2 separate regions of the Homo sapiens genome follow, and region 1 is reported to be linked to region 2. Evidence: microRNA targets listed by miRTarBase, many of them from high-throughput screens and not tested one by one. Region 2 holds a microRNA gene; the other region holds the end of a gene's coding sequence.

What was found. The annotated mature microRNA hsa-miR-4753-5p reads CAAGGCCAAAGGAAGAGAACAG and lies in region 2 at 1,711-1,732, opposite strand. An mRNA with a match to its seed (bases 2 to 7 or 8) in the 3' UTR can be bound and repressed. Matches are read on the target gene's strand: a 7mer-m8 pairs with bases 2 to 8, a 7mer-A1 pairs with bases 2 to 7 and ends in A, and an 8mer does both.
Region 1: miRTarBase lists LMNB1 as a target of hsa-miR-4753-5p. Seed matches in the 3' UTR shown: 8mer at 3,898-3,905.

What each region holds. Positions count from the first base shown.
Region 1 is chr5:126,835,298-126,840,297 of GRCh38, reverse strand. LMNB1 (lamin B1) reads right to left here. Exons shown (of 11, transcript NM_005573.4): 11 at 3,278-4,075. The coding sequence ends at 4,034. Among named protein-coding and RNA genes, the nearest start is that of LMNB1, 61 kb to the right of the region's middle. RefSeq lists enhancers at 1-697, 698-1,442.
Region 2 is chr1:235,188,376-235,193,551 of GRCh38, forward strand. It overlaps MIR4753 (microRNA 4753), which reads right to left and starts at 1,741; the gene lies at 1,659-1,741. The region is part of intron 19 of ARID4B (AT-rich interaction domain 4B); the gene reads right to left.

The DNA of each region.
Region 1 (5,000 bases), not on the chromosome of region 2:
TACTCATACATGCCCTGCTCTTGTTTACACTGCCGGTTTACACTGTTTCTCCAAGCCATCACAGCTGATATCTCCTGGTGCTATCCCCAAACTGCCACTCTTAACTCTTGAAGTAAATAAATAATCTTTGCTGGCAGGACTATGCTGAATCTCCTTAGGCACTCTCTAATCAGATATCCTGAGTCATCCCAATTCTTAGACCTTTTATACCTGTTTTTCTCCTTCTGTTATTCCATTTCGTTTCTCAATTCACCCAAAACCGTATCCAGGCCATCACCAATCATTCTATACGACAAGTGTTTCTTCTAACACCCCCACAATATCACCCCTTACCACAAGACCTCCCTTCAGCTTAATCTCTCCCACTCTAGGTTCCCACGCCACCCCTAATCCCGCTTGAAGCAGCCCTGAGAAACATCGCCCATTCTCTCTCTCCATACCACCCCCAAAAATTTTTGCCGCCCCAACACTTCAACACTATTTTGTTTTATTTTTCTTATTAATATAAGAAGGCAGGAATGTCAGGCCTCTGAGCCCAAGCCAAGCCATCGCATCCCCTGTGATCTGCACCTATACACCCAGATGGCCTGAAGTAACTAAAGAATCACAAAAGAAGTGAATATGCCCTGCCCCACCTTAACTGATGACATTCCACCACAAAAGAAGTGTAAATGGCCGGCCCTTGCCTTAAGTGATGAGATTACCTTGTGAAAGTCCTTTTCCTAGCTCAAAAAGCACCCCCACTGAGCACCTTGTGACCCCCCACTCCTGCCCGCCAGAGAACAAACCCCCTTTGACTGTAATTTTCCTTTACCTACCCAAATCCTATAAAACGGCCCCTCCCTTATCTCCCTTCGCTGACTCTCTTTTCGGACTCAGCCCGCCTGCACCCAGGTGAAATAAACAGCCGTGTTGCTCACACAAATCCTGTTTGGTGGTCTCTTCACACAGACACGCATGAAACGGATCACTCACAACATAGCCCTTGCTGGAGATGTGTTCACAATCCTAAAAACTCCATGAGAAAGCCAACTACCATTAGGAAAGTCAACAGACACAGCTAACAGAAAAATTAGCATTCTCCAAAACTCAAAAAAATAGAATTGAGACTATAAAATATGGTTAAAATGATTCATAAAAAGAATAAAAACTATAATAAAAAATTATGAAAAAGATAAATTTGAGAAAGAATCAAAGACAACTTCAGAAACAAAAAAATGAAGCCTAAAAAGTTCAATGGCTGGAATAAACAGATAAGACAGGGCTGAGAACAGAATCAGTGAGATAAATACGAAGGAGTTAACTGAGAATATAGTGTGGAGAAACCTAAAATACATGAAACAGGACAGGTTCAACACAGGTATAAAAGAAACCCCAGAAGGAAAGAACAGACAGTGGGGATGAGATAATACTCAACAAAATAAGAACATCCAAAATTTTCTTAATGAAGAACACAGAGATAAGACCTGAACAAGAGGAATAAAAATAAATCCATATCTAGGCGTGGTGGTGTGCACCTGTAATCCCAACTACTCAGGAGGCTGAGGCAGGAGAATCGCTTGAACCTGGGAGACAGAGGTTGCAGTGAGCGGAGATTGCACCATTGCACTCCAGCCTGGGCAACAACAGCGAGACTCTGTCTCAAAAAAATAAATAAAATAAAATAAAATAATAAAATAAATCCATACCTAAACAGAGGTGAAAACAAACACTGAAGACAAAACAAGGGGAAAATGTGAATCATGCTTGTTATCAAATAAATAATCCAAAAATGTATATATATGCTGTATGCCTAACATCAATTTCATGCGGAGATGCTGATTTTAATACACAGGATGGCAGCGTGCCCTCTAGCTCACTCACATTCTGCGGGAATGGGTTTAGGTGCAGCTCAATTTCAGAAAACCTCAATTTAGTCCAAAGTTTGTCAGTCTAAACAGACTCAGGAATCTACTACTGCCACACATCCAGGGGCAACAAACTGTTTATGTTGAGCCCTGCATTTGTACTCTCAATTTCCCCAGCATACACACTATTCTACTATGTTACAACTGCCAATTTTTCTTAATGCCCAAATTAATTCAAGTGTTGGCTTTTATAACCTAATTTATCCAGCAATAAAAGCACCTAGAATGTATTTTGATGACAAGAACCCCATCTTGTGGCAAAATGTTTCACAGCTGAGTTTGGCTGTGTACTGTAATGCCATTCCCACTCTGAAGATAAATCTGCGTTGAGAAGTTATCATTTTATCTGCTTTACCAGACAGAATTTCTAACCCAGCATTTATCTTGTGTCTGCGACGGCACCAAAGTATGCAGTAAATCTGCGGAACACAGTAATTCTGGGGCTTTGTGAGTTATTTTCAAGTGAAAGCTGGTAGTCTTTGTGCAGCTTACTGCAGGAATATTTTAAGAGAAAAACAAACACTGACTAGGGTTAGCTTCTGAAATATTATCTGTCCATTCTAGGAAGAGTTCAGATATTGCACTTCCTATAAGATGAACTCACTTAACTAAAGCAATCAAGACAAAACCTCCCCAAATCCACACGAATTGACACCATAATTAGCACCATACATAATAAAGCTACCCCACACACAGCACATTCGTATTTCATAGCATTCATGTTATTTTTCTAAAAGGTGGCTTTTAATCAATTTCTCGGCCCTTCCTATTTTAAAAGACAGTAGAATTACATTCTAAAATATTCTTCCCATTTTTTCTTTTACTAGGAATGTCCAGCATGGGAAACATGACAAAATGCTCTCTACGAATACAAAAACATTAGCCGGACATGGTGGTGTGTGCCTGTAGTCCCAGCTACTTGGGAGGCAGAGCCCAGGAGAGGTCAAGGCTGCAGTGAGCTAAGACCGTGCCATTGCACTACAGCCTGGGCAACAGAGTGAGATTCTGTCTTTAAAAAAAAAAAAAAAAAAAAAGGAATGTCTTCCTCAATGTTTTCTACTGTTCCTATTTGGTTTTCCTGAAGAAATTTTAAAAGGCCTTATTGTTAATAAGCTAAAAAATGTAATGAAGCATTGAGCATGATATCTGGCTCAAAAACATTAGTTATTATTATTGCTTTTATTATTGTTGTTATTAATGACAATTAAATACTGAAAGACCCCCAAAATAGCTTATCTTCCACAACTGGCAAAGCCTTAAAGAAAAATCCAGTTCAAAGAAGTCAAATTATATTTTTATCAAAAGCAAAACTGAAACAATACTTTTCTCCCCTCAAAATCTGTTTTTAAAGCGTTAAAAAGGACAGTATATCAATATTAAAAGAGCTTTTTTATTTGTTAATGTCACATAAGAAATTTAAGCAAGTTACACTATCTTAAAAAACACAACGAATGCATTTTAATAGAGAAACCCTTCCCTCCCTCCACCTCCCTCCCCCACCCTCCTCATGAATTAAGAATCTAAGAGAAGAAGTAACCATAAAACCAAGTTTTGTGGAATCCATCATCCAGAGTGCTTACATGGTGATTAGGTTAATATTGCCTTCTTACAAAATTTCTATTTTAAAAAAAATTATAACCTTGATTGCTTATTACAAAAAAATTCAGTACAAAAGTTCAATATATTGAAAAATGCTTTTCCCCTCCCTCACAGCACCGTTTTATATATAGCAGAGAATAATGAAGAGATTGCTAGTCTAGATGGGGCAATCTTCAAATTACACCAAGACGCACAGTGGTTTATTTACCCTCCCCTCCTCATAAGAACTTAAAAAAAAAGAAAAAACACACATACAAAAAAAGTCAAAAAATTTGAGGAACCCCTTCCGAACAGTACACAGTTATTAAGTTCAGTGTCAATAATTCACATCTTGCAACAAAGTGTATGGACATGATTTCTTTTACAAAACTTTCAGTGTCAAAAAGGAAATTAAGGCCATCAGATTTGCAGCTTAAAAATTCACATAAAGGAAATATAAAAATATTCTGTGCTTCTGAGAAGGCTCTGCACTGTATACAGGTAAAGATTACCATACTTCTTTATTTTGAGGAAGACAGTTGAAAATTTTACATAATTGCACAGCTTCTATTGGATGCTCTTGGGGTTCCCTGATGAGGAAAACAGAAGGAAAAATTAATACTAAAGAAATAGATCACAGTATTCTAAAATAAGACAAAAACTTTTAACTACAGGGATACCAAACCATATTACCTAACCTCAAATGGACCCTTTATCATCTCTCATCTTTTCTAACCTTTTCTTTTTTTCTTTTTCTTTGTTTGTTTGAGATAGAGTCTCACTCTGTTGCCCAGGCTGGAGTGCAGTGGTGCAATCTTGGCTCACTGCAACCTCTACCTCCTGGGTTCAAGCGATTCTCATGCCTCAGCCTCCCGAGCAGCTGCGACTACAGGTGTGCATCACCACCACGTTAGCCAGGCTGGTCTTGAACTCCTGGCCTCAAGTGATCCACCTGCCCTTGGCCTCCCAAAGTGCTGGGATTACAGGCGTGAGCCACCGTATCTGGCCTCTAACCTTCTTTTATGGACTTCTTTCTAGAATACCCCCCAACAAATTCCAGAACAGTAATTGTCAACTCTGGCTACACATTCAGATCCTGAGGAGTTTAAAACAAATTCTGATCTAGGTCCCTTGATCAATCAAATAAGAATTTCTCATTTTACTGGGAAAGGGTAGCTATCTATATATAATTTTAAAGTAATTCTAATGTGCAGCTCAATTTGAAAACCATTGTTCAATAACCTCTTTTGATAACTTAGGAAATAGGAGATCAGTGGATCAGCTTTTAACAACCACATCGGAGACTACAGCTTGCTAGATCCTGAACTTACACATCCCAAGCCATCTGCAGTGGATTTGTCCTCCAAGGTGAAGTCAACATGGCTCCTCTACCCATTTCTTTATCACTCATTAATTTCATATAACCTCACAATATGACTTGTGACTCACCACTGATTGAACTAAAACTGGTTTTTTGAAGGTCACCAAAATATTTCTAATCAATTCAAAAGGCGA
Region 2 (5,176 bases):
GCCCTAGTGCCTATGAAAATTAAAAAGGGCAGTGGGGAGCCTCATACAAGGAGCACTGGGTGAAGACTAAAAATTACTTAGATGCCTAGATCCCCACCTCACTTCAGGTTGGAAGGTGACTGCCCTTCTAGAGCTTTATTCTCTGAAGACAGTAGGAGAGGGCTCCTAGCCTGGGAGATGCTAACAACTGTTGAAGGCACAGGTACAGATGCGATGCTGAAATTAGGGGGATTCATGAACATATCTAACCACTAAGAATCCTCCACCCCACTCTCTGTTCTTCAACTAGATCCTAGAACACTGGAAACCATTCTCTTACCACCCTCCAGTCAAGAGATTGGAACTCTTTTCTCTGGAAGCCAACTAGTCTAAGAGAAAAAGACCTAAAGACTTCATATTATGAATTCCCTAGGACATGGCCAACCAGATCACCCGATAGTGAAACTCAAGGTCAACAAGTGCCAACCATATGCTTGCAATTTCCAAATCAGTTTAGTCTTTCCTTCATAATCATAAGACAGCCAGGAAAAAAAATTCTTAATAGGGAAGAGCTCAAAACAACAACACAGAAAAAAGCAAATTAGAGGTAACTGAAAAAACCAAAAATTATAAAATCCTTTGAAAGATCAAAATCCGAAAGGTAAGGTATTGCATCCATCTATAAGAACAGAGTGGTACAAAACACACAGAAAACAGAGCTCTTGAAAAATTAAACTAGTTTAATTTAAAAATATTCATTGAAAGGCTGGGCGCAGTGGCTCACGCCTATAATCCCAGCACTGTGGGAGGCTGAGGCAGGTGGATCACAAGGTCAGGAGTTCAAGACCAGCCTGGCCAAGATGGTGAAACCCCATCTCTACTAAAAATACAAAAAATTAGCTGGGTGCGGTGGCAGGCGCCTGTAATACCAGCTACTCGGGAGGCTGAGGCAGGAGAATCGCTTGAACTTGGAGGGCAGAGATTGCAGTGAGCCGAGATCATGCCACTGCACTCCAGCCTAGGCAACAGAGTGAGACTCAGTCTCAAAAAAAAAAAAAAAAAAAAAAAAATCATTGAAAACTTAAACATTACAGCAAAAAGTCAACAAAAGGATTAAAAGACAAAGCAGATAAAATTTCAAAGAAATAAAAAGACAAAAAAATTAATAAAAAGCAAGAAATTAAAAGGTGAGCATATTAGAGTATATTACAGAAGGTATAATATCAAATAATGGCTGGCCAAAGAAAGATAACAGCCAAGTGCAGTGTCATGCACCTATACCCCAGCTACCCAACTACTTGGGAGGCTGAGGCAGGAGGACTGCTTGAGCCCAGAAGTGTGAGAACAGCCTGGGCTGAACATAGTGAAACACAGTCTCAATTAAAGAAAAAAAAAAATTTGGCAGGGCTGGGACAGTAGCTCATGCCTGTAATCCTAGCACTTTGGGAGGCTGAGACAGGAAAATCGCTTGAGCTCAGAAGTTTGAGACCAGCCTGGGCAATATAGTAACACCTCATCTCAAAAATAGTAACAATGAACAAAAATTAAAAAGGAGAGAACAGTAAAATGCAGGAGAGGAAATCATCAAGAAAATCATTCAAAAAAACTGCCTAGAACAGAAAGACAGAAGTTGCTAGAATGAAAGAGTCTAGCAAGTAGGCATCACAGGGGATGAAAATATATCTACACAAGGCTAAAGAAAGAGAACAGCCAAGTGTACTGTGGATATATCTGTTCTCTTCCTTTGGCCTTGTGTAGATATATTTCAGAGTTAAATTTCTGGATACGAAAAACAAAGATTCAAGATTCCTAGCAGGGCATGGTGGCTCATGCCAGTAATCCCAGCACTTTGGGAGGCTGAGGTGAGTGGATCACTTGAGGTCAGCAGTTCGAGACCAGCCTGGCCAAAATGGCAAAACCCCATCTCTACTAAAAATAGAAAAACTAGCCAGGCGTGGTGGCAGGCCCCTGCAATCCCACCTACTCGGGAGGCTGAGGCAGGAGAAACACTTGAACCCAGGAGGCAGAGGCTGCAGTAAGCCAAAATTGTGCCACTGCACTCCAGCTTGGCCAACAGAGTGAGATTCCATCTCAAAAAAAGAAAAGAAAAAAAAAAGATTCCAGAGACAGAAAAGCAAAAAATAAAGAATAAAACAAGTCACATACAAAGAATCAGGAATTGGAAGAGCTCTGGACTTCACAAAAGCAATACTGGAAGCAAAAAAACAATTCAACACTGCCAATAAAATACTGAAGGAAAAACTTCCAATCCAGCCAAACTATGAATAGAATAAAGATATTTGCAAAAATAAATACAGATATTTAAATGCAGCCAATCTCTAAAAATTCCATCTCATGCACTTGTTCTTTAGAAGCTACTAGAGAATGTGCTCCACCAAAATGAAAGTATGGGGGTGGGGAGGAACCTGAGATGCCAAAAACAAAGAAATCCAAGAACTACATTAAAGGAGATCCCTAGAATGGGATCTCCCTAGGAAAATAGCTGTGCAACAGATATAGAGGGAAACCAGTCCAGACTACAGCAGTGTTATTTCCAAAGAAAGTCATACTGCAGGCTATTATCATTAAGCTACCTGCTACCGCCTCTCTGTAGTCTTTGAATGCCTGAGTGACCCAGACTGGATTTTAAAATCTGTATTTATCTTGTTTCAACTATGTGTCAATGAAATTCCAGCTCTCCCTTCCATGTCTTATGTGCCACTACCTAGATCAGCTAATGACATCATTTTATCCAGCAGAAACATTCTGACCTACTTGTGAAAAATAGGGGTAAATCACCATAAGCCTAGAATGAGAATATATATAGAGTAGTCTGCTACTACGACTGAGCACACTCCCACATAACATCCACTGCGAATGTGTCACATATTCTTTTTATTTTATTTTTTTTAAGATGGAGTTTCGCTGTTGCTACCCAGGCTAGAGTGCAATGGTGTGATCTTGACTCACTGCAACCTCTGCCTCCTGGGTTCAAGCGATTCTCCTGCCTCAGCCTCCCAAGTAGCTGGGATTACAGGCACCCACCACCACACCCGGCAAAGTTTTTGTATTTTTTTTTTTAGTAGAGACAGGGTTTCACCATGTTGGCCAGGCTGGTCTCAAACTCCTGACCTCAGGTAATCTGCCCGCCTTGGCCTCCAAAAGTGCTGGGATTACAGGAGTGAGCTACTATGCCCAGCCAAATGTGTCAGATATTCTAACTGTAGTGGACCCCTAGGTTTATCAGAACTGGCTTATGACCTGTCCAACTGAATTCTCTAGAGGGGCTTTTGTAAACTCTCAGAGAAGCTAAATCTGAAATCAGAGTATGACTTAGAATCTCTATTCAGGTAACATTCTCAGAAAGCCTTCATCTGAGCCTTCTTATAAAACTAGGCTTATGCTTGTTACTCAATTTTTAAAAAACTAAAAAACAGGCTGGGTGCAGTGGCTCATGCCTATAATCCTAACACTTTGGAAGGCTGAGGCAGATGGATTGGATTGCTTGAGTCCAGGAGTTTGAGACAAGCCTGGGCAACAGGGTGAAACCCCATCTCTACAAAAACTACAAAAAATAGCCTGGCATGGTGGCACACACCTGTAGTTCCAGCTACTTAGGAGGCTGAGATGGAAAGGTCGCTTGAGCCCAGGAGGTCACTTGAGTCGTGATAGCACCACTGCACTCCAGCCTGGGTGACAGAGCGAGACTCTGCCTCAAAAACAAAAACAAAACAAAAAAACACCCTAAAAAAATGAAGTAAAATAAAAATTACTTAGGAATATAAATATAGATAATTCAATTCTGAAGAAAAGTAAAGCAAGGATTACACAAAAGTCCAGACTATAATTACTTCTGGGAGGAGACATACTACGAAGTAAAATAAAAATTACTTAGGAATATAAATATAGATAATTCAATTCTGAAGAAAAGTAAAGCAAGGATTACACAAAAGTCCAGACTATAATTACTTCTGGGAGGAGACATACTACATGTTTTAAGTAAATAGTATTTGATTGCTACTGTGGAGACATACTAGTATCCATATTATTACTGTTCTTTAAACTATACATGTATTTTCCATGCACTATTTGCATGTAGGATACATGGGAAAATTTTTTAAAAATCAATTTAAAAATATTGCCCTAATTAGTACAGTGGTGAGTAAATAAAAATATAGTACAGCATTTGGTTTATAAAATAATGAGTTAATATAAACACACATCTACAATAAGAAACAAAAACTAGCTTCTATTAACATTCAAAATAAGTAAAAATGAAACCTCTTTTAAGTTATGAGAAATGATAAGATATTTTTATGGAGATCCATTCTTTTATCTCATAGATATGTCCCCTTCCCTGCCAGTCAGATTTAATAAATCTCTGCTCCAATCCTCATTGCTTTTATTACCTATACTTCATTTTGCCTTAAATACTAAGCAATAATCCCATCATAAAAGAGGTCATGTCAGGCCAGGCGCGGTGGCTCACGCCTGTAATCCCAGCACTTTGGGAGGCCAAGGTGGGCGGATCATAAGGTCAGGAGATCCAGACCATGGTGAAACCCCATCTGTACTAAAAATACAGAAAATTAGCCAGGCGCAGTGGCGGGCGCCTGTAGTCCCAGCTACTCAGGAAGCTGAGACAGGAGAACAGTGTGAACCCGGGAGGTGGAGCTTGCAAGTGAGCTGAGATTGCGCCACTGCACTCCAGCCTGGGTGACAGAGCGAGACTCCGTCTCAAAAAAAAAAAAAAAGCAGTCAGTCCAGGTGCAGTGGCTCCTGCCTGTAATCCTAGCACTCGGGAGGCTAAGACAGGCCAATTGCTTGAGCCTAGGAGCTCGAGACGAGCCTGGTCAACAGGGCAAAACCCCGTCTCTAGAAACAATATAAATATTAGCCGGGCATGGTGGCATGCGCCTGCAGCTCCAGCTCCTTGGGAGGCTGAGGTGTGAGGATCTTTAGAGTCTGGGAGGTTGAGGCTGAAGTGAGCTGAGATTGCACCACTGTACTCCAACCTAGGCTACAGAGTGAGACCCTGTCTCAAAGAAACAGAGATCATAATAGTCATAATCAGGACAAACAAAGTTTGGTGTTCTTTACAACAACTTGTCAGTATACTTTTATGGTCTGATGTTGTATAACACAAACTATGCATTACATTGCAACAGAAAGGATGGCACAGAAAAGATTAAAAAAC